Regions from separate parts of the Homo sapiens genome. Here regions 1 and 3 are each linked to region 2. Evidence: fine-mapped expression QTL. A gene starts in region 2. Each other region holds a variant in brackets. All regions are shown on one strand. Distances are between the middles of the regions.

Region 1 (10,680 bases), 510 kb before region 2:
TGAGGATGCCAAGGGTCCCTGTCCTCAGAGTTGCCAACCAGATATGGAAAAACGCAGTGTATAACCAAGTGACCAGGGGAAAACCCCAAGGTGGAAAAGGACCTCCGAGGTCCAGCTGCCGATGAGAATTATGCTTTCGCACCCCATGGCCCTCGGCACTCAGAGTCTTTCGCTCCATTTTCACCATAAACAAAAAAGTCTCAAAACATGACAACAGCCTGTAAGATGCTGTGATCCAAATAAAATAGTTGGTGCAGAAATTCAAGGAAGTGCATCAACTCCTCCCAAAAGGGATGGAGAAACCACACCAAAAGAAAACCAGGAACACACGTGCAGTGCTCTCCCTACAATTATAAACAGCTCCAAGATACGGACCCTGTGAGGCAGGAGAATAGGGGCTGGAGGCAGGGAACCTAAGGCCGATTCACACTGACTTCCTAGAACTAAATCAAAAGGATAACCCCAACTTTCCACACCTATGTAACAAAAGGACCGGAGGCCACTCCCCTTGCAACCCCCACCTTTTCTGCATGGCAGGTGAAACTGAAAGGACCTCTGCTTGGTCCCCTCTTCCAACCAATCAGGCTGGTCACAGGCCAAGTCTTCATTTGCACAGGAGTATAACTTTGTAACTTCACTTCAGCCTGTAATTGGTTGCTTCCTGCAACCAATCAGATGTTGGCACAGGGTGTAACTTTGTAACTTCGCTTCAGCCTCTGATTGCTCCCCTCTTGCTGATTCAAATAACCAATCAGACCAATAGTGAGCCATTAGTTCATTTACACAAGGTGTACACCAAGTAACCAAAGGGACACCTCTAGAGGGTATTTAAACCCAAGAAAATTCTGTAACCGGGCTCTTGAGCCCCTATGCCCAGCCCGCTCCCACCCTGTAGAGTGTACTTTTGTTTTCAATAAATTTCTGCTTTTGTTGCTTCATTCTTTCCTTGCTTTGTTTGTGCGTTTTGTCCAATTCTTTGTTCAAAATGCCAAGAACCTGGACACCCTCCACTAGTAACACCTGGACCCCACCTCAGCCCCCTCCACTCTCGCAAGCCCCATCTTCCCGGCAGTCAACTAAGAATCAGACTTTCCCAGCCCCTGTCAACCAGGCTGATGAGTAGAAGACCAAGAATCCTCTCCCTCCTCTCTTCCTCTTCCCTCTCTCACCAGTCCCTGCCACCAAGCCTTTAGGTGAAGCCACGGACCCTGGGGGGCGCCAGGAAAAGCAAGTACAGTCTCTCGAGCACTCCAGCCAATTACAGAGGTGCAATTACAGATGCTGCATGTGCAGCTGCCCTGAGGTTTACAGAATTAGCTTATCAATGACAAAACAGACGGCCATCTAAAACACACACTGGGAGAAAAGAGCTCTGAAAAGTGTGGCGCAGAACGTTCTTTGGAATTCAAATAACAAGTACACAAAGAGAGGCAGCCAAGCTCCGCCCATGAGACAGGTAAACCATGGACTCACCACAGAACCTTGTGTGGTCAAATCTTTGGTCAGGATCTTCACTCATACACATAACAAATACTTCTCTGCAACCAAGTACTCGTGAGTAGGGTGACCATATTAATTGTCGACCACAGCAGTCATTGCTGAGTAAGGAGGAAGCCTCTGTTACTAATTACACCTGGACCAGGCTCGTCCCAAACCAAACAGGAAATGCACTCTCCCTGCATACAAGGCACCCTCAGGGGGTTCTCCTGCCACTAACTGCTGACCCTGGATCCCTCTTGCTTGGGCGTGCAGGGGTGCTCCCAGCCAGCAATCAGCTCCTGCATAAACAGGAACCCAGCAAGCAACAAAATACCTGGGCAAGGGCACTGAGTCCGCATCACTGTCAACTCCTGGTTACTGGTGACCTCCTGACCCGAATTCCTCATGTGCTAGTTCAATTCCTGACCTTCAGCCTCACTCTCACTTCTACAACTCACATCCTCCTTATCCTCCTCCATCCCAGGCCACTGAAAACCCACCTTCTCTTCAGAACACTGCTTTGCTTTTAAGAATCCTACCTGTAGCAAAGAACGTCTCTGTGGTAGATTTAAAAATAAAAGAAAAAAATATATGAGATGAGAATCCTGCCTGCCCATAGACTTGAAGCCTCTGCTCACCTTGGCCATGGCTATGGACTGAATATTTTTTCCTCCTCCACCATAAATTCATATTATTTAAGCCCTAATCCCAACGTGATGATATTTGGAAGTGGGGCTTAGGGGAAGTAATTAAGTCATAGAAGTGGAGCCCTCATGAATGGGATTAGTGCCCTTAGAAAAAGAGACACCAGGCAGATGATCTCCCTCTCCACCATGTGGGGATACAGCAAAAAGGTGGCCTTCTACAAAACACGAAGGGAGCCCTCACCAGACACCAAATCTGCCAGCATCTTTGATCTTGGAGTTCCCAACCTCCAGAACTGTGAGAAATAAATGCTGTTTAAGCCACCCCGTCTGTGGTATTTGTTACAGCAGCCCAAATGGATGAAGACAGCCATACCTTTGAGCCCAGGGTCGCTCCTCCACTCTCCAATTAGATCCCAGAGCTCCAGTATGGACCCTCTACCCCCACCAGGTTCCTAACCTGTCTCTGTATTCTACCACTGCTTATCAAACTAGGCTACATTTCAGGTGGAGAAGGCCCAAGAGGATGATATAGGTGAAACATTCACCCCAATCCTGGGACAAACTCTCTCTCATTGAGTCCTATGAGAATGGAATAGTCTCGCCCATCAGGTGAGAGTGTAAACAATCACGTATGACATCACATCACAACACCACCTTGGGGGAGCAGACACTAACCTCTGTTCACACCTGTGTACAGGCACTGTGCCAGGTGCTTTTCCTGCCTGATAATAGTCACACTGCAGAGATGAGAAAACTTGAACTCACCAAGATAAAAGCACTTACGACATGCCACCTAGGTCTATCTAGCAAAAAGTTCATCGTCCTTCTAATGCGCCAGTGTCGGAACTAATAAATGACAACATACATCTGAAAAAAGCCTGAGGATAATGACAGTGTAAGACACAATGCAGGTACTCATGTATTTATTCTCATGTATTTATGCACAGAAATATATTCTCATATATTTATTTAGAAAGAACTCCCATATTTATCCAATCGCGGGAAGTTGCTTAGCCCTAGAAGTCAAAATGTGGACAACAGACACAGTCGACAAAGATAGTTCTCATACATTTAAATAAATGCCTAGGCTTATTTTCATGGTATGAACAACTATTTTTCATGTTTAATGTTTTTAAGACTTTCCATTAGTATGAATAAGAATTTGTCTTACACAAACATCCAAAAAAAGACAGTTTCTTTAGGATTACATATCTTAAACATTATTTTCTTTTCTGCTATAAAATCGTCACCACAACCCTAGCAACTAGGAAGTTTTGTTTCCTGTCCTTGTTTTTATTCTTTTGTGGTGGCAAGTGCCAGCATGTGGGGTAGGTAGGGTGAGGCAAGGTGGGTGACAGTAAAGGACACTGTGCTCAATTCGAAGCTACGGGAGGAGAGAGCTCTAGTCCTAGATTTGCACCAAGGAGCTTTGAGCTCTCAGTAATTCAGCAACCCTGGGCTGTCATTTCATCTATAAAATCAGAGGGTTAGGTGTTCTCCACAGCCTCCTCCTGCACTCAATCCTATGATAACTGCTGAAAACTCCAGCATGGGACAATTACCAGTGTGACACCCTTGAGAGAAATGGTGGGATGTATATTTAAAAAAGACTATCTAATGACTCACCCATGAGTAAAAAATAATTTACTTCCATTTTAAAATCCATATTAATCGACGTGACGTTAGTAGAGAGAGTGCCTAATGTCTGACAGCGCTTCTGAAGAGGATATAAATAGGCGGTTTTTGAAATTAGTCAGCCATGTGCTCACGTCCACCAAGAAGCACATGCAGGCAACATGCTCCAGGCTGTGCGTGCAAGCTGTTCTGTTTCCAGCACAAATGCAGAAAAGGGGAAAAAAGCAGTCCTGGTAGAGTCAGTCATCACATATTTCAGCTGTAAGTAGGAAACAGGAAGCTCACAAAGAATTGTAATTTAGAAGCATTTAAAACAAAACAAACAAACCTACTCCAGGCACAAATACCAGATAGCTGCAAAGCCAACTGTGGTATTTGATGACAAATTGTTTAAAGTCACCAGTGGGTCAGAGTACAAACCACGCCCACGTGAAAGTCTCCCTGGACGCTACCAGGGTCTACCCATTCTCCCCTCTCTGTAAGCCAGCTTCACACAGGTAAGTGGGTCCCATAAACCCCCGGAGGCACCCACATCTGGCTCTTTGTGGGCAGCGCAAGTAGAGAAAAAGACAGTCAACCAACCGTCCTGAGAAACAGGAGGCTGACACTCAGAAAATCAACATCAAACATCCTCTCCCATGCCACAGGGTGACTTCTCACCTCCACTCCTCCCCACCCATCACCCCACACACGCTGTCTCCCAAAAACACATCTGATCTTTATGAAATCTCAGCTTCAGAGCTCCCCAGGATGTTACTGTTACTGAAGGGGAGTGAAAAGGAGGAAGAAGAGAGAGAAGGAGGGCTCCAAACCCATCCCAAGTTGATTCCTTCATGATGTTTCCAAGAATTTAAAGAATAAGTGGTGAGGCTGGGCGCAGTGACTCACGCCTGTAATCCCAGCACTTTGGGAGGCCAAAGCAGGCAGATCACTTGAGGTCAGGAGTTC[G/A]AGACCAGCCTGGTCAACGTGGTGAAACCCCATCCTTACTAAAAATACAAAAATTAGCCGGGTGTGGTGGTGCATGCCGGTGGTCTCAGCTACTTGGGAGGCTGAGGCAGGAGAATCACTTGAGCCCAGGAGGTTGCAGTGAGCCGAGATAACATCACTGCACTACAGCCTAGGTGACACACCGAGACTGTCTCAAAAAAAAAAAAAGAAAAGAAAAAAAAGAGTAAGTGGTGACTTTTTAAAAGAATGGTCAAAGGAATTATTTTTAAAGCTGTAGGTTGGCATAGGACATTTATCAAAAGAAAGAAACTATCAGTTCAAACTTACCTAGACATCTTATAAGAGTCCTGAACCATCTATAATCTGAAAGCTTTTTCAAATACTAGTAAGCCAGGCACAATTACCAATTATTCAAATAACATTTATTATAGCTAGTGATTTCCACTGACTATATCTGCAATAATTAGAGCTGGTAGGTTTTTAAAAATATAGATTTTAAGAGTATATGGAAAGTCCTTGAAAGGCAATGTTTCTGGGCTGTTAGGAATAAGGCATTCCTTTAACACGAAATAATGAATTTTAAACAGTAATAATAATAACAAGGAAGAAATGAATGACTGAATGAATCAGAAGGCAGTACACCATAGGGTGAATAAGAGTACATTCTTGGGGGATGAGGGGCAAGGGGAGGGAAAGCATTAGGACAAATACCAAATGTATGCGGGGCTTAAAACCTAGATGACAGATTGATGGGTGCGCCAAACCACCGTGGCACATGTATACCTATGTAAGAATCCTGCATGTACTGCACATGTAGCCCAGAACATAAAGCAAAATTTAAAAATTTTAAAAATTAAAAAAAAGAAAAGCACATTCTTTGCAGTGAATATATCTCAGTCCTGGGTGATCCTGGGCAAGATATTCAATGTCTCTATGCCTCAACATCCTCCTCAGAAAATAAAACCAATTACAGTCCTAAATCACAGGGTTGTCATGAGGATCCAAAAATGATGCATGTAAGAAGCATTTAACATGTTCAAAAGAAACACTTAACGTACTAATGGTCCTTATTCCAGGATGAGTTTTGGTTCCAACTCTACAAATCATTAGCTGTGTGGTCTTGGGCAAGCAATTTAACACATCTAAGCGTTGGTTTATTCACCAAAAATGAAGAATCTTGATTAGATGACCTCTTCATTTCTATGGCTTCTCCAAGCTCAAGACCTCTCTGACAACAGAAGCAACATTTATGATTTCAAACTCTTCCACGTTTCTAGTTTTCACATCTTTCTTTTAGGACTTATTGGTCACAGCCATGATTTATATGAAATCAAGTGTTTGGTCAACAGCACGACTCCTCAGAATGAGACTGTGACTATGGGAATCCTAGAACCTACTTTATAATGATCCTTTTAACAAATAGGTTTCAAACAACACATTGTGGCAAAAGACAGGCTTGCCCATGATAGTTAGAATCAATATATTTCCATTCTGGTAGCCTTCAAGTATGGAAGTTGTCCCAAAATCAAACTGCGGATGTAGTATGTCACCGTGCAGCCTGGTGCTGATGGAGCATATGTAAATTAAATTCATTCGCTACGATCATGCTTCTTCCAAAGGAACTCTCAATTTCTTCCTAACAGAAACAATTCAAGTATCTACCCTCTCCAAACACTCTTAACAATGAAGTTGAGAGGTGCCATTAAGAGATCCATTTCTCAGCCAGGCGTAGTGGCTCATGCCTGTAATCCCAGCACTTTGGGAGGGTGAGGCAGGCGGATCACCCAAGGTCAGAAATTCGAGACCAGCCTGACCAACATGGAGAAACCCTGTCTCTACTAAAAAAAAAAAAACACAAAATTAGATGGGTGTGGTAGCACGTGCCTGTAATCCCAGCTACTTGAGAGGCTGAGGCAGGAGAATCACATGAATCCAGGAGGCGGAGGTTGCAGTGAGCCGAGATCGTTCCACTGCACTCCAGCCTGGGCAACAAGAGCAAAACTCCATCTCAAAAAAAAAAAAAAAAAAAAAAGATCCATTTCTTCCGTATGTTTGCAGAAGAAAACACAAAACTATTTCAGATGTATCATTCTCCTCTAGTTATCTTAAACTCATCAATGACTGATCTTTTATAAGAAAAGACTGAGCATGAATGTCTCCTTACAAGTCAGAAAATTTAAAATGACAATTGAAAAAGATACTCTCTATCATGGTCTGCACCATCACGGGGAATTCTACCTCCTAAACCTAGGTCATTCTCTCCTAACTTAGGTGAACAGGCACCCAAGTTACATAAAAAAGAGAGTTAGCACATATGCACAGAATTTAATATTGCTGCAACTCAAGACTTAAATAACAAAATTAACCTGACAGGGTAACATCCACAGAAGACCGTGCAAACGGTAATTAACTTTAATAACAGGAGGCGCTCACAGTAACTGCAAGAGCCAAGCCAATCTTTGCTTTTTTCTGTGAATTCTGTAGATGCCCCTAAGCTGTATCAATGTTGTCAGTTTTCCCCGATACCCTGGTCAGTTTAAATCTCATCTCATGCTCACTGCCATCTCATTAAGAGAGAAGAATCAACAATCTCTAATGAAATAATTAATTCAAACAACAGTCATCGATGAATGCTAACGGCATTGGGAGAAAGATCGATGAGGAAATGAAAGGGTCAAGCTGCCACCCACCACAGGACCCCAACGCTCAGTTTTAGAATCACTACACGTGAGACAGTCAGACCTTTTCCTAAGCTGAGGCAACGTTAAGCCAGATGATACCAACAAATTAATCCTGCCAAAAACACTGCACATGAATCTGATCAAGCTTTCATGATAACTTCCAGTTTACAGAAATACAGGGACTAGTGGGATGAGTTTAAAAGAAACCCAGCACCCAAATCCAGAATGTGGAACATTCTACGGAACAAGTGACCTGATTCCTTCAACAAGTCAATAGCATGGGGGGAAGGGGTGGGGGTAAAGGAACTGTTCTATATGTATACAGCTTTAAAAGGCATAACCATCAAATGCATTGGACAGACTTTGTTCAAATCCTGGTCCTTAAGAAAAGCCATTTCTAAGTGAATAAGGGATGAAATCAATGCTGGGGAGGTGGGAAGTTCAGCAGATCCCTGGGCTTCCCCGATCCCGTGCCATCTGATTTCCCAAACTGCATGCCCAGCCATCCCCGAGTTGAAAGGTCAGGGCCCAGCACAGAAACTAGGCTATGAATGGCTGGGCCACACCCAGCTCAGGACCAAGAAACCCTCAGGTAAGATGATTCAGCTTTGGCAAAGGAAGAGGCAGTTCCTGGGGCTACTAGTGCGGAAATGTACAGGTTCCTTTGCTGGAAATTTTTGCCAGCAGGTTCGTAGCAACTCTGAGGCTTCATGGGAAAGCCATTCACATAAAAAAGCATAAAATCACAGGTCTGTCCAGAGTCAATTTATCACGTGAATCAAAACAAGGCACCTCTGAAGTGAAAGGGGAGAAAAAGAGACAACACCTAACAGGTGGCTTAGATTTTGCATCCTTAACAGTGTCTAATCCTGCATTTCTACCCAGGGGTTTTGTAGTTTGGCTTTGTTTTTCGTGTATCTTTTTAAAAATATATAATTGAGGCATAACTTGCATAAAGTGCATGCATTACATGTACAGCCCAATTTTTACTCCCTGCAATTTCAATTTTACTTGGATCAGTTTTGCAAGATAATATCTCCTCTCTTCAAGGCATGTGCCAGTCAGAAGCGATTCTGGAATGGAAAAAGAAACAGACTGGGGCCTGCTTCTAACTCCTGCGCCCTGCACACTGGTAGCCTGGGCAGCTGACATGCACCGTCCAGCCAGGACACAGATTAAAGCTGAACAGAGTCCCTTGGCAACGGAAGATAACAGCTTCTTCACTGCACCATTCCAGTACCTACCTCTGCCCCCAAATCCTACTTTCCCCCAGGCTTCCAGCTCAAGTCGTGAGGATTTCTAACTGGCCACTGCACTGCCTGGAATTGCCCAACAAATATGGAACAATGGTTGACCTCTTTCACTCATTTCAAAGGCCCACCATTCAGCGGGTTAATATTTTAAAAAATGGCAGACTTCCCTGGGGTCCTACCCAGATAAAGAGATCAACAAAGATTTGAACGAAGTCTTTTTAAATTAAAATTTAATATTATTAATTCTTAATTTTTATTCTTAAAACTAGGTATTCTAACATAAAAAGCTTTTTTGTTTGCTACTTTGAACTAGTAAACTAAAATTATAATTAAAAATCCTTAAAAGAGAAAAACATACTAAACGTGAAAAATAAGTTTAACGACACCATAATTCCATTTGAGAAAGTTTAGGAAGATGTGACACCAGTAAAAACTGTTCTACCAGCAACCAGGGGTAGAACCCAGTGTAACACTAATTCTTATTCAAGAAAGTTTACTGCTGGCCGGGCGCAGTGGCACTTTGGGAGGCTGAGGTGGGCGGATCACTTGAGGCCAGGAATTCGAGACCAGCCTGGCCAATATGGTGAAACCCCATGTCTAATAAAAATAAAAATTAACAAATAAACAAAAATTAGCCAGGCACAGTGGCGGGCACCTGTAATCCCAGCTACTCAGGAGGCTGAGGCAGGAGAATCGCTTGAACCTGGGAAGTGGGGGTTGCAGTGAGCTGAGATCACACCACTGTACTCCAGCCAGGGGACGAGACTGAGAATCTGTCTCAAAAAAAAAAAAAAGAAAATTATTGCTTATCATGGCTAAAATTATGTAACCAGCTCTTACCAAGCTACTTGAGTGTGTAAGGTGTTTAAAATCTTTTCCAAAATTTCAGAATTCTTGGGATATACAAAGAACTCCTCTGCAATACAAAACTATGAAATCTTCCAATATAGACTATATGTGGCAGGAAAAAATACCGTTTAGATATAGAACTGTTCGAGAGTAAAATGTATTATACATAATACAATTAGATAAACATGTTGAAAAATGCATGATGCCTAATTAAATTCCATTCATTAATAGGGTAACAGCCTTGGGGCACTCTGTACAAAAATGGCATTTCTGGTAAACACAACATTTAAAACAACTCAAACACACAGGCTCTGCCTGATGACATAATTATGTGTTTTTAATTTGGTGCCATTCTGACACTATGCCTAAGAATACTTCACAAATGGATCACTTTAAGACACTATCATCTCCATACGGTAATGCCAAAATAAAAATTCAGTACAAATATTCCCCTTAAAACTACAATTTTCAGCCAGGCACGGTGGCTCACACCCGTACTTTGGGAGGCCAACGCAAAAGGATTGCTTGAGGCCAGGAGTTCAAGACCAACCGGGCAACAGAACAAGACTTCATCTCTACAAAATATAAAATTTAAAAATTAGAGTGGTGAAGCGCTCTGCAGTCCTAGCTACTCAGGAAGCTGAGGTGGGAAGATCCCTTGAGCCCAGGAGTTCAAGGCTGCAGTGAGCTATGGTGGCACTGCTGCACTCCAGCCTCCATGACAGAGCAAGACCCTGCCAAAAAAAAAAAAAAAACAAAAAAAAACAAAACTGGCAAATGCATTCTCCAACTGGAATCCCAATCTCTTTGTGAGGCTACGAAGACACAAGCCTCAAACACATGGTGAAGGGCGTGTGAAGAAGCAGTAAAGACACAGCTCCATGAGAAGAAGGCCCAAGTCTGATCCCAGCTCTTAAAACCCCGAGCAAGCTTTTAACCTCCCTTGTTGAAAAACACTGATCATGGCACCTCTCATGGAACTGCATTGGTTGGTGCCTCTACAACTGATTTCTAGAAATCACAGAAAATAATGGCCATAACTGTGCCTGGCATATAACAAATGCTCGGGAAATGCTGGCCACTGTTATTTTTATTCTCATCTTAAGGCACATCTCAGTGGACCTTTTTCTCATCAGCACAGGGTATCTCTTATGATAGATGACAAACTCTAAGAAGGTTCCTTAAAAG
Region 2 (10,364 bases):
TCCACCCGCCTTGGCCTCCCAAAGTGCTGGGACTACAGGCGCGAGCCACCATACCTGGCTCCTTTTCCCACTTTCTTAACAGCCAACTCCTCCTTCAAGACTTAGCCGACATGGCAACACCTCCAGGAAGACTTTGAGACAAGAAATAGCTTTAGCCTGGTCTTCTCGTCTATGAGCCTCTGGCCATCTCTCTCCGTCTTTCTTCTGTTCTCATTCTTACCTGCCTTCAAAGGGCTTCCGCTCCACTTGGCCTCCCGGCTGTTCTAACAGGCCTGTCGCACTGCTGCTCTCCCGTCTCTACCTCAGAATTATCTTCCCAGGGTCGGCCTGGCTCAGTGCTTCCACTCCTCTAGGTCTTTGCTCATCTGTCATCTCAGGAGGCCTTTTATCACCCATCCTAGCACCCCCTTCCACTCTTACCTGCTTTTTCGTGTTGCTTTTGTTTTTTTCTGAGATACAGTCTCACTCTATCACCCAGGCTGGGGTGCAGTGGCATGATCTGGACTCACTGCAACTTCTGCCTCCCAGGTTCAAGTGATTCTCCTACCTCAGCCTCCCGAGTAGCTGGAATTACAGGTGTGCGCCACCATGCCCAACTAATTTTTGTATTTTTAGTAGAGACGAGGTTTCACCATGTTGGCGAGGCTGGTCTTGAACTCCTGACCTCAAGTGATCTGCCCACCTTGGCCTCCCAAAGTGCTGGGATTACAGGCATGAGCCACCGCGCCTGGCCTTCCCTGCTTTTTTTCTGTAGCACTTTGAATCATCTGACAACTTAAATCGTTTACTTTGTTTACCGTTTCTCCTCCTTTAGAACTCTGGCTCACCACTTTATCCCCAACACTTAAAATTCAATGAATATTGTACCTGTAGGAAAAGGCGGGGGGGGGGGGAAGAAAGGGAGGAGGGGGATAAAAAGGAAGGATTAAATGTCTTTCAAATTTCCCCGTTTTCATAAAACAGCACTGCTGAGACCCCTGACAACCTTGGACATCTCCACATAGCCACAGAGCCAAGGCCTGACTGCGGTCTACCCTGAGTCCTCGCCGAATGCCTGTGATTTCCCTGGGAGCAAGGCAAGGCTTCCCTTTTTTTTTTTTTTTTTTTTTTGATTGAGTGCAGGAAACTTTATTGATGGTACACGACAAGGTGAGGCTCCCATGGTGTCTCCCTCTTCAGGGCGTCTGCGTGGAAACTGTGAGGAGGGGAGATTCTCAGTGGGGGCGGGGGCTGAGTGGGGCAGGGACTCCGCAGCAGTGAGAGCCTCTCTCGTCCTCTCGTGCTCTCACTGGGGCTGGTGGTCCGGGGGTCTTACTCCTTGGAGGCCATGTGGGCTCCGCCACCCTGTTGCTGTAGCCAAACTCACTGTCATATCAGGAAATGTGCTTGACAAAGTGGTCGTCGAGGGCAATGCCAGCTCCAGCATCGAAGGTGAAAGAGTGGGTGTCACTGTTGAAGTTGGAGGAGATGACCTGGTGCTCGGTGTAGCCCGGGATGCCCTTGAAGAGCCCTCTGAAGCCTGCTTCACCACCTTCCTGATGTCATCCTATTTGGCAGGTTTTTCCAGATGGCAGTTCAGGCCCACAACTGACACGTTGGCAGTGGGGACACAAAAGGCCATGCCAGGGAGGTTCCCATTCAGCTCAGGGATGACCTTGCCCACAGGGCTTCCCTATCTTGTGGGAGAGTCTCACAAGGCTGTTTCTCATCCATGTCCCTAGTTTAGTTGAGACTAGGGCTTTCCATCTTCCCCTTCTTTCTCCGCACCCCCTACAACCTGCTCCACTTTAGGATGGAGCCGCAGGCTTCTGTGTAAATCTGTAGAACTGCTTGCTGAAGTTTAGTTTGTTCCTCGACAGAGTGACCCACCACTCATAAGACCTGTCATCTGACCTCTGAGATTGGGAATGCTGTCCCATGGGATTAGAGATGCAGGGAGCTGACATCATGTTGGTCTTGATTTTGCTGTTTTGTGAGACCTGCGAATTGCTCAACTGCTTGAAACTCCTCACCTTCACTTGTCTCTATGGACACAGATATTCTTTGGAGTACTATACCGTTCCAATTAGTAAAGCTTTCAGTATTCATTTTGCATCTCATCATTAAAGTTTATTCTTAGTAACTGATTTAAAATAATGAATTGTTTACATAACAACTACTGTTACATAACACACACACACACACACACACACACACACACACAAACACACACACACAGCTAAGGTCAGAATACCATGGAGGAAAAGAAGAATCTGGTGGTCAATTCCCTTACATTCTTCTATTGACAAATTTTCTTGTTGGGACCTTCACTTATTTCATCAAAGGATTGTGGCTAATGATCTAATTTATTACTCAGAATCTTTTTATTTATTTGTTTTGGAGACAGGGTCTCACTCTGTTGCCCAGGCTAGAGTGCAGTGGTGTGATCATAGCTCACTGTAGCCTCCACCTTCTATGCTCAAGCAATCCTCCTGCCTCAGCCTCAGGAGTGGCTGGGACTACAGGCACACACCACCATGCCCAGCTAATTTTTTTTTTTTTTTTTTCTGTAGAGACGGGGTTTCGTCATGTTGCCTAGGCTGGTCTTGAACTCCCGGGCTCAAGCAATCCTCCTGCCTCAGCCTCCCAAAGTGCTGGGATTACAGGTGTGAGCCACCACAGCCGGCCATCACTCAGAATCTTAAGTCATTGTCAAATAATGGAAAGCATACAAATCAAACAGTAGTCCAATTCTAGAATTAATATAAAAAGAAAGCTCTAATATACAAAGACCAAACAGATTTTACAGGATAAAACAACTGTCATTAAAAAGTAAAACTGGCAGGTGTGGTGGTGCACATCTGTAATCCCAGCACTCTGGGAGGCCAAGGTAGGAGCATTACTTGAGCCCAGGAGTTTGAGACCAGCCTGAGCAACATGGCAAGACCCCGTCTCTACAAAAAGTACAAAAATTAGCCAGGCATGGTGGCATGCTCCTGTAGTCCCAGCTACTCAGGAGGCTGAGGTGGGAGGATCACTTGAGCTTGGGAGGAGGTTGCAGTGAGCTGAGATGGTGCCACTGCACTTTAGCCTGGGCAACAGAGCAAGACCCTGTCTCCAAAAAAAAAAAACCGTTTCTTCAGAATAGGATATCAAATATGTAAAGTAATAATTTGAGAAACATGAAAAAGCGTTATGTGTAAAGAAAATCAGAAGACTTAATCTGTATTAGTTTAATGTAAAAGCATGCACATATGTGAAACAAAGTAGAAGGGAACACTAAAGAAAAAAATGGGTGTGATTGGGTCATGGGAGAATGTTTTTTACTTTTTGGTTGTAATGTTTGTGTGATACAAGAGGGACAGAAATTACTTTCGAAATGTACTTGTTAATTTTAGCAAAATCCTCGTGGAAATTATACTGCTAGTTTTAAAATAAAACACAAGCACTAAAATAATAAAGGTTATGTTTCATTTTTATTAACTTAGTTTTGCCACGGTTGAGACTGGATTTGCCATAGTTCAATTTATCAAGCACTTAACTATGTGTTCCGCACATAATAATCATCTTAGCATAGAGGAACATGTCTTCTAATCCGCACAAGAGATACTATTTTTATCACGTCATAGAGGAGGTTAATAAACTTGCCTAGGTCATAAGATCTTCAGTTGATGAAGTTAGGATTTCAACCCAGAGCCAAGTAATGTAATGGCTGATGTTTTCCACAGAGAAAATGTAAGCCGAGATGATGCTCAAACTATAAATCTGGAACCTTAGGGGGACAAAAACGTATGGATGTCTCCTTCCCATTACTTTAGCATTTTAATTAGATTCCTGTGTCTCTATTTGTCTTTGGAAATGCAAGCTGCTTGCAGTTCATCATAGCTAACTCACACAATTCATTTTATGAAACACAAACCTGTTCTCACAAACTCACTGTCATCTCTTTTTAATCTTTCTAATTGTGATAAAAATCATACTGCACTTTACCCTGTGTAACCTCCAATGATCTTTGACCAAAAGCCAAATCTTTTTTTTGTTGTGTTTACTTATGGACAGTTAGGTTCTACATAGGTACTTAAACATGAAAATTGAAATCATAGAGGCTGGGCACAGTAGCTCATGCCTGTAATCCCAGCACTTTGGAAGGCCGAGGTGGGCGGATCACCTGAGGTCAGGAGTTCGAGACCAGCCTGACTAACATGGTGAAACACCGTCTGTACTAAAAATACAAAAATTAGCTGGGCTGGTGGCCCGTGCCTGTAACCCCAGCTACTCCGGAGGCTGAGGCAGGAGAATCACCTGAACCTGTGAGGCGCTGGCTGGAGTGAGCCAGGTTCGCGCCATTGCACTCCAGCCTGGGCAACAAGGGCAAAACTCTGTCTCAACAACAATAATAATAATAAATAAAAGAAAGAAATCACAGAAACTATACCAGAAAATAGGATACAAAACCAACAGTGAGGAGATTGAGAAAAGGAGGCAGATACGTAAAGAGGAAAAGGAAGGGGGCCCAAGTAAGGCCGGAAAAAGCGGGGAGAAGGAGGAGGCTCATTAGGTCAGAAGCAACCTGCCGTCTTCTAAGTTCTGGCCAAGGGTAGATCAACAGATCCAGATTCCTGAGCTTTAAAATGTTATTCGGCCGCTTCATCACTTGTCCCCGACTTTGCAGCGACTCCGATGGTAGCCTGAGTCTCCATTGCTTGGAGCAGCCACAGTGGACACTGGACGGGATATTCTGTGCAGCTGTTGCTGAACTCAAGGCAACTCTTACTGCCTTTCTCTTTTCGGGCTCAAGATTCCCTGCATTATTGCCCATAGGCATGTGTTTTACCCCATACTCCTTCTCCCTTTTATCTTGATTTTCGCGGTGCTGGGGAGTCTGCAGGGATTCCATGGCGACGGGCTCACTGGGACAGGGGCTGGGGTTGTGCGTCCCTGAGGCAAGGCAAATACAGAAAAGCGAATAGAGACAGAGGGCTAAGATTCCAAAGCACTGAAAGGTAGAAACTGGGTTAGAAGAGAGAGGGGAGCACAAACGCCCGGAGAGAGCGAGCCCTCGGGATACCATTGGCTATAGGCTGGCCTCCGAACAACTGGACGGTCCAAGTCCTGAGCGTCTGGTTACCCGGGCAACCGCATGGTCTCGCGATACATACCTCGCGCCTGCGCACTGCCCCTGTAGCGGGGGTGGGGGGACCCGGTCCGGAGACTCCACCCCGGGGCCTAAACTCGAGTCTAAAAGATTGGGCCTCGTTGTGTCGTTTCCGGGTCGCGCGACGCTGTGGGCCGCTTTCCCCTCTCCGGAGTGACCTAACACAGGATAACGAAACCTGCACTGCTCCGAGCGCTTCCTCCCCGGCCCGTCGCGTCTGCGAGGCGAGGCCGGGAGGCGAGGGCTCTGCGCACGCGCGGCGCAGGCGCACTGGGCGCCGGTGCTGTTGCCTTCAGGTGACCACGGATTCGCCATCGTGAGTTCCAGGTGGGCGCGCGGGGCCCACGTAGGGCAGGAGGCCAGCCCCGGGGGGATCGGGCCCGGGACTCTGCGGAATCTGGAGGCCGAAGCCCGCGCGCACGCAGGGTCTCTGCTGCTTCCCCAACGCCTGTTGCGTGGCCGCAGGACCCGCCGCCCTCCCGGTTGGGCCGCCCAGTCCCGGGCCGGGCGCGTGCACCCAGAGCTTCCGCGTTTCTAGTCCGGCTCCTCTGCTGGATTGCAGCGCCGGCTGGGCACCAGGAGTACAAAGCGAAAACCCCCGCCGGCCCTTCTGTTCTCCACGGTCTCCAAGGAGACACGGACAACAGAACAACACTTCCGTGTGCTAAATAGTAAAGCACCAAGGTACTCGATCCAGGGGCGGCGTGCAGTGGGGAGGTGAGCTTTGGGTCGGCCGTCGCCCCTCGGCTACCGGCGGGATCCAGAAACCGGGAGTCACCACCAATACCGTTCTCAACTTTACTTCCAGCTGGTCACTACTGTGTCGGGAGATTCTACCTTCTTTTCCGACTAACATGTATTTTTCTCCAGTCCTTTCTGCGGCGTCTCTAGTGCAGGCCACCGTCATTTCTAACCTGGACGACTCCAGGAGCGTCTTTGCTGCTCGGGGACTCTTCCTTTGCCCAGATCCACAAAGATCTATAACGTCTTTCTAATCACGACACCTCTGCTTTAGATGTTAAAGTTGCTTCACACTGGAACGCTTGCAAAGGTCTTCATTATCTGGTCCTTACCCACCTTTCCTAGTTTCTCACCGCTTTCTCTAGCATCTCTGCCCCAGCCACATTGAACTTATTTGAACGTGTTTTTTTTTTTTTTTTTTTTTTTGAGACATAGCAGTCGCCCAGGCTGGAGTGCAGTGGCGCGATTCCGGCTCACTGCAACCTCCGCCTGCCGGGTTCAAGCGATTCTCCTGCCTCAGCCTCCCGAGTAGCTGGGACTACAGGCGCCTGCCACCACGCCCGGCTAATTTTCGTATTTTTAGTAGAGACGGGTCACCACGTTGGTCAGGCTAGTCTCGATCTACTGACCTCAAGTGATCCGCCCGCCTGGGCTTCCCAAAGTGCTGGGATTACAGGCGTGAGCCACCTCGCCAGCCAACTTATTTCTTTTAATACTGAGATACCTTTCTTTACTCCATACTTCCTTTGGTAGGCATTGTTTAGATGTAGGTTAAGAGGTCCGGCCCGGCGCGGTGGCTCACGCCTGTAGTCCCAGCACTTTGGGAGGCCGAGGCGGGCGGATCACAAAGTCAGGAGATCGAGACCATCCTGGCCAACATGGTGAAACCCCGTCTCTACTAAAAATACAAGAATTAGCCGGGCGTGATGGCCCGTGCCTGTAGTCCCAGCTACTCGGGAGTCTGAGGCAGGAGAATCGCTTGAACCCTGGAGGCGGAGGATGCAGTGAGCCGAGATTGTGCCACTGCACTTCAGCCTGGCGACAGAATGAGACTCCGTCTCAAAAAAAAAAAAAAAAAAAAAAGTTCCTCTGTGAGGACTGCCTTTTCCCACCCCCCTCAACTAAGCTAGGCCTCTGCTGGATGTTCCCTAAGCATACTGTTCCCTGACCTTCATGTGCATCAGGCTTTATTGTATAATTACTTGCTAATATTTTTTCCTCGTGGACTCTAAGCTCATGAGGTCTGTGAGAAAAAATACTTAATCTTTATGGCCTGGCACATCGTGGATAATCGATAAATATTTGTTGAAGAAAGGAAGGGGCCTGCGGCTGAGGGTGGGAGTGGTATTCCAGGCAGAGGGACTAATGTGTATAAAGACTTGCAGGTGGGAAAATGCTGGCCTCATTAAATAGTATGTTGTTCGGTGTTGAGGACTTGTGCTTGGTGGGGCCTAAGGAGAAAGAGGGCCTAAGTGGGAGATTGAGCTGGAGTGTGGAGGGCCTTTTATGTCACATTAGAGTTTAGGCGGGGCATGGTAGCTCATGCCCTCAATCCCAGTACTTTTGGGGAGGCCGAGGCTACGGGATTGCCTGAGCCTAGGAGTTGAAGACCAGCCCAGGCAACAAAGCAAGACCTTGTCTCTATAGAATTTCTTTTTTTTTTTTTTTTAAGACGGAGTCTTACTCCATTGCCCAGGCTGGAGCACAGTGGTGCAATTACGGCTCATTGCAGCCTCCGCCTTCTGGGTTCAAGCAATTCCCCTACCTCAGCCACCCACCTAAGTAGCTGGGATTACAGGTGTGCACCAGCACTCCTGGCTAATTTTTGTATTTTTAGTAGAGACTGGGTTTCACCATATTTGCCAGGCTGGTCTCGAACTCCTGACCTCAAGTGATCTGTCCAGCTTGTCCTCCCAAAGTGCTGGGATTACAGGTGTGAGCCACCGTGCCCAGCCTATACAGAAAATTTAAAAATTAAAAAAATTTTCTGGGCTTGGTGGTATGCGCCTATAATCCCAGCTATTCAGCATGAGGCTGAGGTGGGAGGATTGCTTGAACCCAGAAGTTCAAGGCTGCAGTGAGCCATGATCGAACGACTGCACTACTGCCAGGTGACAGGGCAAGACTGTCTAGTAAAAAGAGTTTGCCCTTGATCTACAGGCAGCAGAGGCCTCTTGAGACAGCTCTAAAGGGCCCTCAGCAAAGCCTATTTTTCTCTCTTTCTCTAAAGCTATAAAATCTTATCAGTCAGTACTTTGTTTCTGGATTATATTGCGTGAGATTATGCTTATCCAGACTACTTGGCTCTCTTTATCGCCCCAGCAGATTCTGCAGGTGGGACAAGTTTATAGCCTGTTTTGTGATCCCTCTGGAGCATGATTTTAAGTATTTATTCTGTGGTGTTTGGATGTGGAGACATCATCTGACTTGCAGTTGGCAAGAGCTCTGCCCCATCCTATTTGTTTCACCCCCTGTCACTTATTTCCCTCTTCCTGACCACTTTGAACCTGATGCCAGCCCCTCACAGTCACTGCATTGCATCTGGATGAGCCACTTTTCTTCCTGATTTCCTGAGCTCTAGGGGAGCATAGAGATAATGGGGTCAGGGGACACAGTGTGGCCACCGTGAAGGAAGCAGCTTAGGCCCCAGAAGTCTCCAGGATTGCTGTACCGAGATGACCAGGGTGTGATCTCTCACCCTAAGGAGCTGAATTTGGCTTTTCTGTGGGAAAGTGTCTGGGAAGAATATCAGAGACCAATAGCGCTCAGGGGGCCCTTTCTCGGGGCTGTCCAGTGTGGAAACACCCTGTCCTACACCAGTGGTTCCTGATTCCGGCTCTGAATCAGATTCACGAGGGCAACTTTTTTTTTTTTTTTGATATGGAGTCTTGCTGTCGCCCAGGCTAGAATGCAGTGGCGCGATCTTGACTCACTACAACCTCCGTCTCCTGGATTCAAGAGATTCTCCTGCCTCAGCCTCCAAGTAGCTGGGATTACAGGCAGGCACCACCATGCCTGGCTAATTTTTTTGTATTTTTTAGTAGAGACGGGATTTCGCCATATTGGCCAGGCTGGTCTCGAACTCCTGACCTTATGATCCGCCCGCCTTGGGCTCCCAATGTGCTTTGGTTACTGGCGTGAGCCACTGCACCCGGCCTGGGGCAGCTTTTTATAAGCACAGATGCCCAGGCCTTATTATTGAAGATTCCAATTCAGTAGATCTGGGTTGAGGACCAAGCATCTGCATGTTTTAAGAAGCCACAGGTTATTTTTGAGGTGTAGCAAGGATTGAAAGAACAGAAAACTTGGATTTGGAAAACTAGTTGTGACTTTAGGCAGTGAGTCAGTTTCCTAATGCACACATTGGGGGATTCTATAGGAATGCTGTAAGAAGCAAATAATACATGGAGAGAGTGCTTTATACAGCGATACACTGCACAGACACACTTGCCTTCAACATCAGCTGCCAGCCTAGTAAGTGGTAGTATAAATGCAAAGGATATAACTTCCTTTAGTTTTGCCAGGTGGGTCCCTGTGATTCTAGCTGAGCCCCAGGAAGGAAGGGAAGAAAACTGAGGGAAGAGAAGGGAGTGTGTAGTTGCCTCTGGGAAGGATAAAAGGATATGCCCTCTGGACCAATAGTTTATAACATTTTCCCCATTAAGCATCCTTCTACTCATTTTTCCTCAATGGATTAGTATCTTTAAATTTCATTACATTTCCCTAGTCTTCATGGAATTGCCAGCCAGAGAAGTCAGCTCGGGGTCCCCCTAAAAAGGAGGACTGGCCGGGAGTGGTGGCTCGTTCCTGTAATCCCAGCACTCTGGGAAGCTGAGGTGGGTGAATCACCTGAGGTCAGGAGTTCGAGACCCGCCTGGCCAACATGGTGAACCCCATCTCTACTAAAAATACAAAAATTAGCCAGGCGTGGTGTTGGGCACCTATAATCCCAGCTACTCCGGAGGCTGTGGCAGGAGAATCGCTTGAATCTGGGAGGCAGAGGTTGCAATAAGCTGAGATCATGCCATTGCACTCCAGCCTAGGCAACAAGAGCAAAACTCCGTCTCAAAAAACAAAAAAAAGGGAGTGTATGCCTGCATATGTATCAAATGCTGTAGGAAGGATATTCAAGAAATTTAGGGCCCTGGGAGGTGGGGAGACTTACAAAAGTGGACGTGACAGTGTTATTTGAAGTTTTAATCATGAGATGACTGTTCAGTTCTTTAAAATATCACACCTGATTGGTTGTGAATGGCAGAGGCCACCAGAGTATTTGCAGATTGGGAGCTCTACGTGGGTGGACATCGGGTCTTGCTTACTGTGAGCCCCAGGACCTAGAACACCACTTGCATACTGGAGGTGCTCAGATCATTTTTTTTTTTTTTTTTTTGCAGACAGGGTCAGATGTGTTACTGGGCTGGAGTGTGGTGGCACAATCACGCTCACTGCATCCTTGACCTCCTGGGCTCAAGTGATCTTCCCACCTCAG
Region 3 (10,680 bases), 61 kb after region 2:
GAGTCTCTGAGTGGAAAGGACCCACACACCGCCTTTTTAAAAAGGAGGTTGGAGCTGAACATGGTGGCTCACGCCTGTAATCCCAGCAACTCCAGAGGATCACTTGAAGTCAGGAGTTCCAGGCCAGCCTGGGTAACACAGTGAGACCTCCCCTCCGCCATCTCTAAAAAAATACAATAAAACTAAAAGGAGGTTGATCTACGTATTTTGATATATAAAGACCTCCAGGATATGCTGTTAGTGAAAAATCAAGAGGCATGCTGCCATTTGTGTTGAAGGCCTGCAGAGGCACACATGTGCACATGCTCCCATCCTTGCCACCACTGGAAGGACACACCAAGAGTCCACAACAGGAGCTGCCTATGGGGGAGAAGTTCAGCGCAGGGAGAATGAGACTTAACTTCGTTGCCTCCCATTGATGGCTTTTGAATTTTGTACCACACAGCTGACCTCTGAATACGTCACACTACTTATTCAAAAAGTAACATAATGAAAACACGAAAATGTCTCTAAGGCCAAAGCTACACACAGATGTTTTGTTTTATTTTATTTTATTTTATTTTTTTTTTGAGACAGAGTCTCGTTCTGTCGCCCAGGCTGGAGTGCAGTGGCCAATCTCGGCTCACTGCAAGCTCCGCCTCCCAGGTTCACACCATTCTCCTGCCTCAGCCTCCTGAGTAGCTGGGACTACAGGTGCCCGCCACCACGCCCGGCTAATTTTTTTTTTGTATTTTTAGTAGAGACGGGGTTTCACTGTGTTAGCCAGGATGGTCTCGATCTCCTGATCTCGTGATCCACCCGCCTCGCCCCCCAAAGTGCTGGGATTACAGGCGTGAGCCGCCGCACCTGGCTTACACACAGACGTTTTATTAGTTAGTATACAGGTTGAGCTGCGTGGGCTCCAGTCCCAAAATAACAGCCGCTCACAACACAAGCACATTTATCTTTCGTGAAAAGGTCTCTGCATCCCTCAGTGGGGAATTTGTGCCCTAAAATGACAGCAGGGCTGGCTCCCTCTGTCCTGTCTCCCCTGCCCCCAGGATGCTGGCTTGGTGCAGGTGCTGTGGGATGACTTCCTACCACTGGTACACATATCCCAGCCAGCAGGAGGGATGAGTGGGGCCCTCCAGGTGCCCAGAACAAACTGTCACTGTGGAAGAAGGGGCCCACTGGCAGCCTTGGCCATGAGGGTCCAGCAATAGGGGACTAAATAAATAATGGTACCCTGTGTAGAACCACATGACGGGATGGCCAGCCAATTGACCTGACTCAGGTGCAGGCTGTGTGGTGACCTGGAAAGACATTCAGTTCCTTTCAAATGACAACAGATGAATACAAACAGTATACAGTAGGTGCCCCTTATCCTCAAGAAGGCGTTCCAAGTCTCCCAGGAGATGCCTAAAACCATGGCTAGTACCCACTCCTAAACTTCATAGCCTATGCACAAAGGTATTTTTCCTTTTTCACAATTTTATGGGTAGATTATTATTATTTTTTGTTAGTTTTTATTTCATAGTCATAAACTTAACTCTGCAATCCAGCTAGGCATGGAAGGGGGCAAGGAAAACATGGAACCCAAAGGGAAATGCAGTGAGAGCACAAAGATTCTAGGATACTGCGAGCAAATGGGGTGGAGGGTGTTCTTCTGAGCTACAAAAGGAATGGTCTGGTGGTTAAGATAAAACACAAGTCAAACTTATTAGAGTTGTCCACAGTCAGCAGTGGTGATCTTCTTCCTGCTCTTGCCATTCTTGGACCCATAGCGCTTCATGGCCTCCACAATCTTGATGCCTTCTTTCACCCTGCCAGAGACCACATGCTTGCCATCCAACCACTCGGTCTTGGCAGTGCAGATGAAAATCTGGGAATCGTTTGTGTTGGGTCCAGCATTTGCCATGGACAAGATGCCAGGACCTGTATGCTTCATGGACAAGATGCCAGGACCTGTATGCTTCAGAATGAAGTTCTCATCATCAAATTTCTCCCTGTAGACAGACTTGCCACCAGTGCCATTATGGCATGTAAAGTCACCACCCTGACACAAAAGCCCTAGAATAATTCTGTGAAAGCAGGAACCCTTATAACCAAATCCTTTCTCTCCAGTGCTCAGAGCACGAAAGTTTTCTGTCTTTGGAAACTTGTCTGCAAACAGTTCGAAGGAGACGTGCCCCAAGGCCTCGCTGTTGATGGCGATGTTGAAGAACATGGTGGGGTTGACCATGGCTGGTAGTACAGGGCTCCTGGTGGCGGTGGCGTCTGCAAAGCCTTTTTTGTTGTGTTTTTTTAAGAGATTGGGTCTCACTCTGTCATCCAGGCTGAAGTGCAGTGATGCAATCATAGCTCACTGCAGCCTTGAACTTCCGGGCTCAAGTGATCCTCCCGCCTCAGCCTCCTGAGTAGCTAGGAGTACAGGTGTATGCCACTATGCCGGGCTAGTTTTTTTTTTTTTTTTTTTTTTTTTTTTGTAGAGGCAGGATCTTGCTATATTACCCAGACTGATCTCGAACTCCTGGGCTCAAGTGATCCTCCCACCTTGGCCTCCCAAAGTGGTGGGATTATAGACATGAGCCACTGCACCTGGCCCCAAGGATTCCTTCTTACAACCACAGTATGTGATCTTCTTTTCTTATTGAGAACTTTCACCTTTTCACTTAAGAAAGCACTTTATGGCTTCTCTATGGTGTATCCAAATTGCCAGTGCCACTCCTCTTGTGCTTTAGGGCCATGGAAGTAAAGTAAGGGTCACTTGACCACAAGCACTGTGATTCCAAGACAGTGAATTTGATCACAGAGATGGCTACTAAGTGACCTGCAGGCGGGGACGCTGGCAAAGAGAAAAGTCGCATCCAGGGCGGGACAGGGTGGGATGGCCCCAGATTTCATCATGCTACTTGGAAGGGCATGAAATTTAGAACTTAGGAATTGTTTCTGGAATTTTCCATTGAATATTTTTGAACCAACGTTGACCAAGGGTAACTGAAACTGCAGAAAGCAAAATCACAGATAAGGCGGTGATGTGGTTTGGGTGTGTCCCCATCCAAATCTCATATTGAACTGTAGTTCCCATAATCCCCATGTGTTATGGGAGGGACCTGGAGGGAAGTAACTGAATCATGGGGGCGGTTACCCTCATGCTGTACTCATGACAGGGAATGAGTTCTCATGAAATCTGACGATTTTATAAAGGGCTTTCACCCCCCTCACTCTCATTCTTCTCTCTCCTGCCACCCTGTGAAGAAGGATGTGTTTGCTTCCCCTTCTGCCATGAGTGTAAGTTTCCTAAGGCTTCTCCAACTATGCAGAACTGTGAGTCAATTAAACCTCTTCCTTTAAAAATTACCCGGTCTAACGTACATCCTTATAGCAGCATGAGAACGGACTAATACGGGGCGGAGGCTACCATATTTGCATTTTTGTAAATATTTATAAATAGGAAAATGTATATATGAATATACCAAGGCATGGCGTTTTTGCTTAGTGATTCATTCGAATGTTCTACATTAAAAATGTGGTTTCAGGCCAGGCGCGGTGGCTCACGCCTGTAATCTAAGCACTTTGGGAGGTCGAGGCGGGAGGATCACAAGGTCAGGAGTTTGAGACCAGCCTGACCAACATGGTGAAACCCCATTCTACTAAAAATACAAAAATTAGCCATACGTGGTGGCACATGCCTGTAATCCCAGCTACTCAGGAGGCTGAGGCAGGAGAATTGCGTGAACCCGGGAGGCGGAGGTTGCAGTGAGCCGAGATTGCGCCACTGCACTCCAGCCTGAGCGACAGAGCTAGACTCTGTCTCAACAAAAAAAAAAAAGGTTTCGCAAAAAGAACTTTTTAAAAACTTCATTTGGAAACCAAAATAAGCACTCTGCTTTCACTGGTTCTTTCTTCAGTTTTCTTAAAATGTTAATAAATACCCCTAAAGTAGTGAAGAACAACTATCCCCCTGCCCTCCCAAAAAAAGAAACACTAAAGGAAAAAACTATGGGAATTTCTTATGTTAACTGAATCCCCAACCTTCTCTGGGAAGGTACTATATGAGCTGGAACACTGAGAGAACACAGCTACGGAAATAAAGAAGTCCCTATTTCCCCGGGGCACTGTGAGTTTAAGCCAGGAACAGAAGCGCACTAAACAAAACAGAAACTGTAAAGGTGACATCCAAATTCAGTCCTCGACTCCAACCAGGTTTTCTCCTAAGGCTGGGAAAGCATGACAGGCCACTAACTTACTCAAAGCATCCACAAAGAGCCACCATCCAGGGCAGACTGGGCATAGGCTGCAGCAATGGGGTACAAGAGGGCTGAAGTGGGTACCTCCCGGCAGCGCTTTCACCCAGGAGATGAAAAACCAGATTCCGTGGGCCATGTCACTTCTCACAGGAACCTGGCTTCGTGGAACTCTGAATGATGGTGATGCTGGGGGCAGGGGGCAGAGGCTCCAGAGAAAGGGGTGCTGATATGTACAAGGCTACAGGTAAGGCAGTCAGAAAAGAGATGATTAAGCCATGAAAGAAGCAAAAAAGAAAAAAACTTGTTACTAAGTACACTGATGCTATAAAATAAAAGGAGTCCTTTAAGGAACTAGAGACAAAAGAGTTCCTAATTATTGATTTGCAATATTCTTTAAGCAAAGAAATGTATGATTTTAAAAAAATTAATTCATTGACCCATTACACTGGTGAATTTTGGCTCCAAAGGTGTTCAGGTTGGTAATCAATCTATGACTTATAAAGAAAAAGACCTTGAGACATTATCAAATTACTCTTATTGAGAGTCCAAGAGACTGTAGTTTAGTGAAAAGCAACAGATTTACAGTCAGATAGACTTAAAAGCTAAGTTTGAATTTGAGTTATGGCCTGGATAACTTATTAAAACTGATAAGCCACAATCTCTTCATTTGTTATTGTAATGAGTCAACCAGGGAAAATATATAAGGCTGGGCACGGTGGCTCACGCTTGTAGACCCAGCACTTTGGGAGGCCAAAGGAGGGCGGATCACTTGAGGTCAGGAGTTCAAGACCATCCTGGCCAACATGGCAAAAATCCATTTCTACTAAAAATACAAAAATTAGCCGGGCATGGTGGCAGGCGCCTGTAATCCCAGCTACTTGGGAGGCTGAGGCAGGAGAATCTCCTGAACCCAGGAGGTGGAGGTTGCAGTGAGCCAAGATCACGCCACTGCACTCCAGCCTGGGTAACAGAGAGATACTCTGTCTCAAAAAAAAAAAAAAGAAAAATACATAAGCATATGCCAAGAGGTCAAAAAATTAGTTACCATTTAAAAATGTTGGGCCCTATATAGCAGACCAAAACTAAAAACTCTACAGCCAAAGTCCTCTCAATGAGAAGTAGAAAAAGAAAAGCCTTCACATATTCTTAATGCATATAAAATAAAGACAATTTGAAATAAATTTGTCAATGGGAATTAAGAGCTATTGGAATCCATTCTGCAAATCTTTAGTAAGTTACAAACACATGCAAGGTACCAGGTATTGCAAGGATTGGAGACTGAAAGTGCTGTCTCCATGCACACAATCTACCTGTGAGTAGACAGGCAGACACGCTGTGTTCTGCAAACATGTTTTGAGGTGTGTCTTAGTTCAGCCTGCTATTACAGAATACGATAGACTGATTACTTAAAGAAAAGACATTTATTTCTTACAGTTCTGGAGGCTGGAAGTCCACCAAGATCAGGGTGCCAGCAGGGTCAGGTTTTTGGTGAGGGCCTTATTCTTGGCAGAGCAACAAAGCACTGGACTCTATCTCTTTATAAGCATACACTGATCCGATTCATGGGGACTCCACCCTTGTAAGCTATTTACCCCCCAAAGGTGCCACCTCCAGACACCATCACGTTGGGGATTTAGGCTTCAACATATGAATTGGCAGGGAGATACAATTCAGTCCCAGCAAGGTGCCAGCATTGTTCACTATGTCCTTCCCTGAAAACTCCCTTTGCCCACAGGTCTCACCAAAGGTGTGGCCCTCAGTGGCCATGTTGTACCACACAATTCTCTTCTACCCCTCCCTTTCCCTTCTCCATCACAGTGGACTGGATCATGCCTGGATAATCCCTTTCTTGGCCAGAAACCAGTGAGATCCTTTCTGGAGAATCTGAACTAAGGAACAGATGCTTGGGGCAGTCTAGTTGACAGAGACTGAGACAGAAAGGGAGAGAGGTTAGAAAGACAGATGGACCTTGGGTACTTGACTTTCTATAATGTTTAATTCTAATAAAGTCCAGCCATACTTTATTTTCAGATAACCTATTGTATATTTAAATAAAACCTCCTTAAA[ATATTTATT/A]TATTTATTTATTTATTTATTTATTGAGACAGAGTCTCACTGTCGCCCAGGCTCACTGGAGTACAGTGGCACAATCTCGGCTCACTGCAGTATGTGCTTATAAAGTGATCTCCATCTCTCGGGTTCAAGCAATTCTGCCTCAGCCTCCCGATTAGCTGGGATTACAGGTGCCCGCCATCGTGCCAGACTGATTTTTGTATTTTCAGTAGAGATGGGGTTTCACCATGTAGCCCAGGCTGCTCTCGAACTACTGACCTCAGGTGATCCACCCGCCTCGGCCTCCCAAAGTGCTGGGATTACAGGCGTGAGCCACTGCGCCCAGCAAAATAAAACCTTTTACTCTAGCTGGTTGGTAGATGCTACACACACATTAAGCAACAGACGCAAAGACCCACATCTCCCATTTGTGATTGTGGACAAGGAACTCACCTCTAGGAGCCACAGCTTGGGGCAGGAGAATGAGGGTCTTCCCGAGCAGAGGGCTGGGGAGATGAGGTGAGAGCAACTGGGAAAGATGTCACGGGAAAGATACACTCACTAAGAGCTACAGGGCTTCCGGCAGGGGTCAGCGCCTTTGGTCATAGTGGCTGCGGAAGGCTTCATGAAAGAAAGGACATTTGGGCTGACCTTGAACTTAGAGAAGAGGAGAAGAAAGATCAGGAGACACTCTCAGAAGCAGAGGAAGCCATGACCCACAGAAAGGCGTGAGCAGTAACAAATTCCTCTTGGTGAACAATGATGTCTGACACTGAATTCAAAGTTGTTTTCTGCGCTACTCTGTAATCAGACCTCCCTCCCTCCCCATTAGCCACAAACGCTTCAGCAAATGCTGTGCACAATAGCTGGATTTTAGTGATTCCTGGGAGGAGGGTGGTGAGAGACACAGAACTGAAGATAACCGTGTTCCACCCAAGGTCAAATGTTGAAGAAAAAGAGCACCCTAAGGACACACAGGCACAAGGAGCCCGGTGATGGGGCAAGTTGGCTGCAGTGTGGGTGTGCCTGAGGACCATGAAAACTTAAGACCCCAAGAAACCCCCATGAACATGTATCAGCTCAGGCCATTTTGTTTAGATAGTAAAGGAAAGGTGCCAGGTGCAGTGGCTCACACCTGTAATCCCAGCACTTTGGGAGGCTGAGGTGGGGAGATTCCTTGAGGTCAGGAGTTCGAGACCAGCCGGCCAACGTGGTGAAACCCCGTCTCTACTAAAAATACAAAAATTAGCTAGGCATGGTAGTGTGCGTCTATAATCCTGCCTACTTGGGAGGCTGAGGCAGGAGAATCGCTTGAACCTGGGAGGTGGACGTTGCAGTGAGCAAAGATGACGACACTGCACTCCAGCCTGGGCAACAGAGTAAGACTCCATTGCAAAAAATAAAAAATAAAGGACAGGCGATCCCAGCATGTGAAAGGACATGGAAACCCTTTGGTAATAGAACAACAGGGAAAAAATGCCAGAAGCTTCTAGACTGAAAACAAGTTAAAACAGACAAAAAGAATAAGATTACCTATAAAAGACAGAGAAGCAGAGAAAACAGCATCTGGCCAGGCACAGTGGCTCACACCTGTAGTCCCAGCACTTTGGGGAACCGAGTCAGGTGGATCACCTGAGGTCAAGGTCAGGAGTTCGAGACCAGCCTGGCCTGGGTGACAGAGCGAGACTCTGCCTCAAAAATCAAAAAAAAAAAAAAAAAAAAAAAAAAAAACACAAAGAAAACAACATCTGTACCAGTAAATACTGGAAGATATTAAAACGTTTATGGAGTTTCAAGGAAAACGATTGTTATCATAGAGTCACATGCACACCCAGGCTATGTATTATGTGGGAGGGGAAAAGAATGGCATTTTCAGACATGCAAGAACTCAAAATACATCATCCACGCACTCTAAGAAAAAAAATCATGTGAGAATGCTGTTAAAGAAGAAAAAGACAGGATGTGTTTTATTTTTTACTTTTATTTTTTTGAGACAGAGTCTTGCTCTGTCGCCCAGGCTGGAGTGCAATGGTGCAATCTCGACTCACTGCAACCTCCACCTCCTGGGTTCAAGTGATTCTCCTGCCTGCCTCAGCCTCCCGAGTAGCTGAGATTACATACGCCCGCCACCACACCTGGCTAATGTTTTTTTGTATTTTTAGTAGAGATGGGGTTTCACCATGTTGTCCAGGCTGGTCTCGAACTCCTGACCTCAGGTGATCCGCCCACCCCGGCCTCCCAAAGTGCTGGGATTACAGGTGCGAGCCACCACGCCTGGCCGGGAGGATGTGTTTTATAAAGAACGATGGAAACCCATAAAAACAATAAAGCTGTCAGGAAAGTCTAAAATGTTTTTGTTAACAGGAATGTGAAACATGTAATAGTTAAGAAAAAAGTCTCTAGTGACACAAGGGCAAAAATAAAAGAATTACAATTCCAGGTTATTTCAATTAAACCTAGGAAATGAAAAGAAGTCAAAATATCCTACATGATTTTTCTTGTGAGATGGTAGAATATTTTAAATAGTGGTTAATTTTTTGATATGGATAAAGAAATATAGATGAAAACATACTTGTTCAAAATGTACAGATCGCCGGGCACGGTGGCTCACGCCTGTAGTCCCAACACTTTGGGAGACGGAGGTGGGTGAACTGCTTGAGTTCAGGAGTTCGAGACCAGCCTAGACAACATAGTGAGACCCTGTCTCTACAAAAATACAAAAATTAGCCAGGTGTGGTGGCATGTGCCTGTAGTCCTAGCTACTTGAGAGGCTGAGGTGGGAGGATCACTTGAGTCCAGGAGGTCAAGGCTGTAGTGAGCTGAGATTGTGCCACTGCACTCCAGCCCAGATGACAGAGTGAGACCTTGTCTCAAAAAAAAAAAAAAAAAAAAAGTGTACAGATAATCCACAGAAGAAAAAAAGAATGAAAACTAGACATATTCTACCAAAGACAGGAAATAAAATACAGAAATTTTTGAGTACCAAGAAAGCTTATAAACAAAATTCAAAGACTGAATATGATCTGAGCTGTCCAGTATGATAGCCACTAGTCACATGGAGCTATTTAAATTTAAATTAATTCAAATAAAATAAAAACATTCAGCTCAGTCACACTTGTCACATGCAAGTGCTCCATGTGTTGATGACTGCCCAACTGGATTACTATCACCCCAGAAAGTTCCAGCACACAACAATAAGAGTCAGCGAAACATACATGGTAACAAATGCACCCAGGTACAGTAAGATCCCAGCGATGTTAAACACACACACATATTAAAAAGTGAGTTCATTAAACTATCAGTGGTGACAGCTCTGGGAAATAAGGTGACCAGGGGCTTTCACTCTACCTTATATACCTTATTGTTTGATATATATATATATTTTATTTATATATATATTTGATTTATATATCTCTATGTATTTGATATTATATATCTGTATTTGATATTTATATATCTCTATATATTTGATATTTATATATCTATATATTTGATATCTTTTGATATTTATATATGTGATATATATAAATATATACATATAAGAGAGAGATATATATATATGTATATTTTTAGACAGAGTCTCATTCTGTTGCCCAGGCTGGAGTACAGTAGTGCGATCACAGCTCTCTGGGCTGAAGCAATTCTCCCATCTCAGCCTCCCAAGTAGCTGGAACTATACGCATGCACCACCATGTCTAGCTCATTTTTTATTTCATCGAGATAGGGTCTTGCTATGTTCCCCAGGTTGATCTTGAATTCTTGGCCTCAAGCGATCCTCCACCTTGGCTTCCCAAAGCACTGGGATGACAGGCATGAGCCACCACACCTGGCCCTATTGTTTGATTTTTGAATAAGCGTATTTTTAAAACGTCATTAACATGTTTTCAAAGAAAACAACAATCAATTTCTTGAACTTGGAGTAGAACTTGGTTCTGTTAAAATAAAGTGATTTTAACTAGTATAGATGTATAACGTACATTTGCACTAACAAACAAAGATGGCAAAGTATGTGTCCTATATTTAGACAACCCTGGAAAAAATTTGTTCTGGGCCAAAGGGTGACATCACCCATTCAGATGCAAGTCTTAGCAGACACTTGATCATTTCAAACAGTAGTTCTTGATTTGAGGAGGTCCCTCAGGCAAAGACTGTCGTTAATCTATTTTTCCATTTAGATTTATACAGTTGATAACAGATCAAATTTCAGAAAGGGCAGCTTTGAGTTATCCCTAAATTTTCCATAAGAAAAACTTATTGCAAGTCATAATGTTTCTGCATTTTCCCACTGATACCACACAGCTGACAAAGGGGAAGTTCCCAACTCAATTTCAACAACAGACATATGAAGTCAGATACAACAACATAGTGCCCAAAGAAGAACTTCCTTTTTTTACCCCCTA

Alleles and levels. Positions count from the first base shown, and alleles are read on the strand shown. Sizes are in standard deviations (SD) of each study's normalised expression. Not every link is listed here.
For the expression in monocytes after Pam3CSK4 of the gene that starts at base 5,371 in region 2, allele A in region 3 goes with a higher level than allele ATATTTATT (large effect, 1.2 SD a copy in Quach 2016).

The links.
Region 1: its variant is fine-mapped to the expression of RPP38-DT in spleen (GTEx, PIP 0.95).
Region 3: its variant is fine-mapped to the expression of RPP38-DT in monocytes after Pam3CSK4 (Quach 2016, PIP 0.95).

What each region holds. Positions count from the first base shown.
Region 1 is chr10:14,584,271-14,594,950 of GRCh38, forward strand. All of the region lies in intron 2 of FAM107B (family with sequence similarity 107 member B), which reads right to left. Among named protein-coding and RNA genes, the nearest start is that of MIR1265, 150 kb to the left of the region's middle. RefSeq lists an enhancer at 4,008-4,207. The variant G/A (reference allele first, on the strand shown) is at 4,710.
Region 2 is chr10:15,091,949-15,102,312 of GRCh38, forward strand. It overlaps RPP38-DT (RPP38 divergent transcript), which reads right to left and starts at 5,371. Exons shown (of 2, transcript NR_160789.1): 1 at 5,139-5,371; 2 at 3,437-4,917. RPP38 (ribonuclease P/MRP subunit p38) reads left to right here and starts at 5,407. Exons shown (of 3, transcript NM_183005.5): 1 at 5,407-5,818; 2 at 10,270-10,364. It also overlaps the pseudogene GAPDHP45. RefSeq lists enhancers at 4,952-5,523, 5,825-5,914, 5,975-6,114 and a silencer at 5,325-5,684.
Region 3 is chr10:15,153,100-15,163,779 of GRCh38, forward strand. The region is part of intron 1 of NMT2 (N-myristoyltransferase 2); the gene reads right to left. It also overlaps the pseudogene PPIAP30. Among named protein-coding and RNA genes, the nearest start is that of NMT2, 10 kb to the right of the region's middle. The variant ATATTTATT/A (reference allele first, on the strand shown) is at 6,297.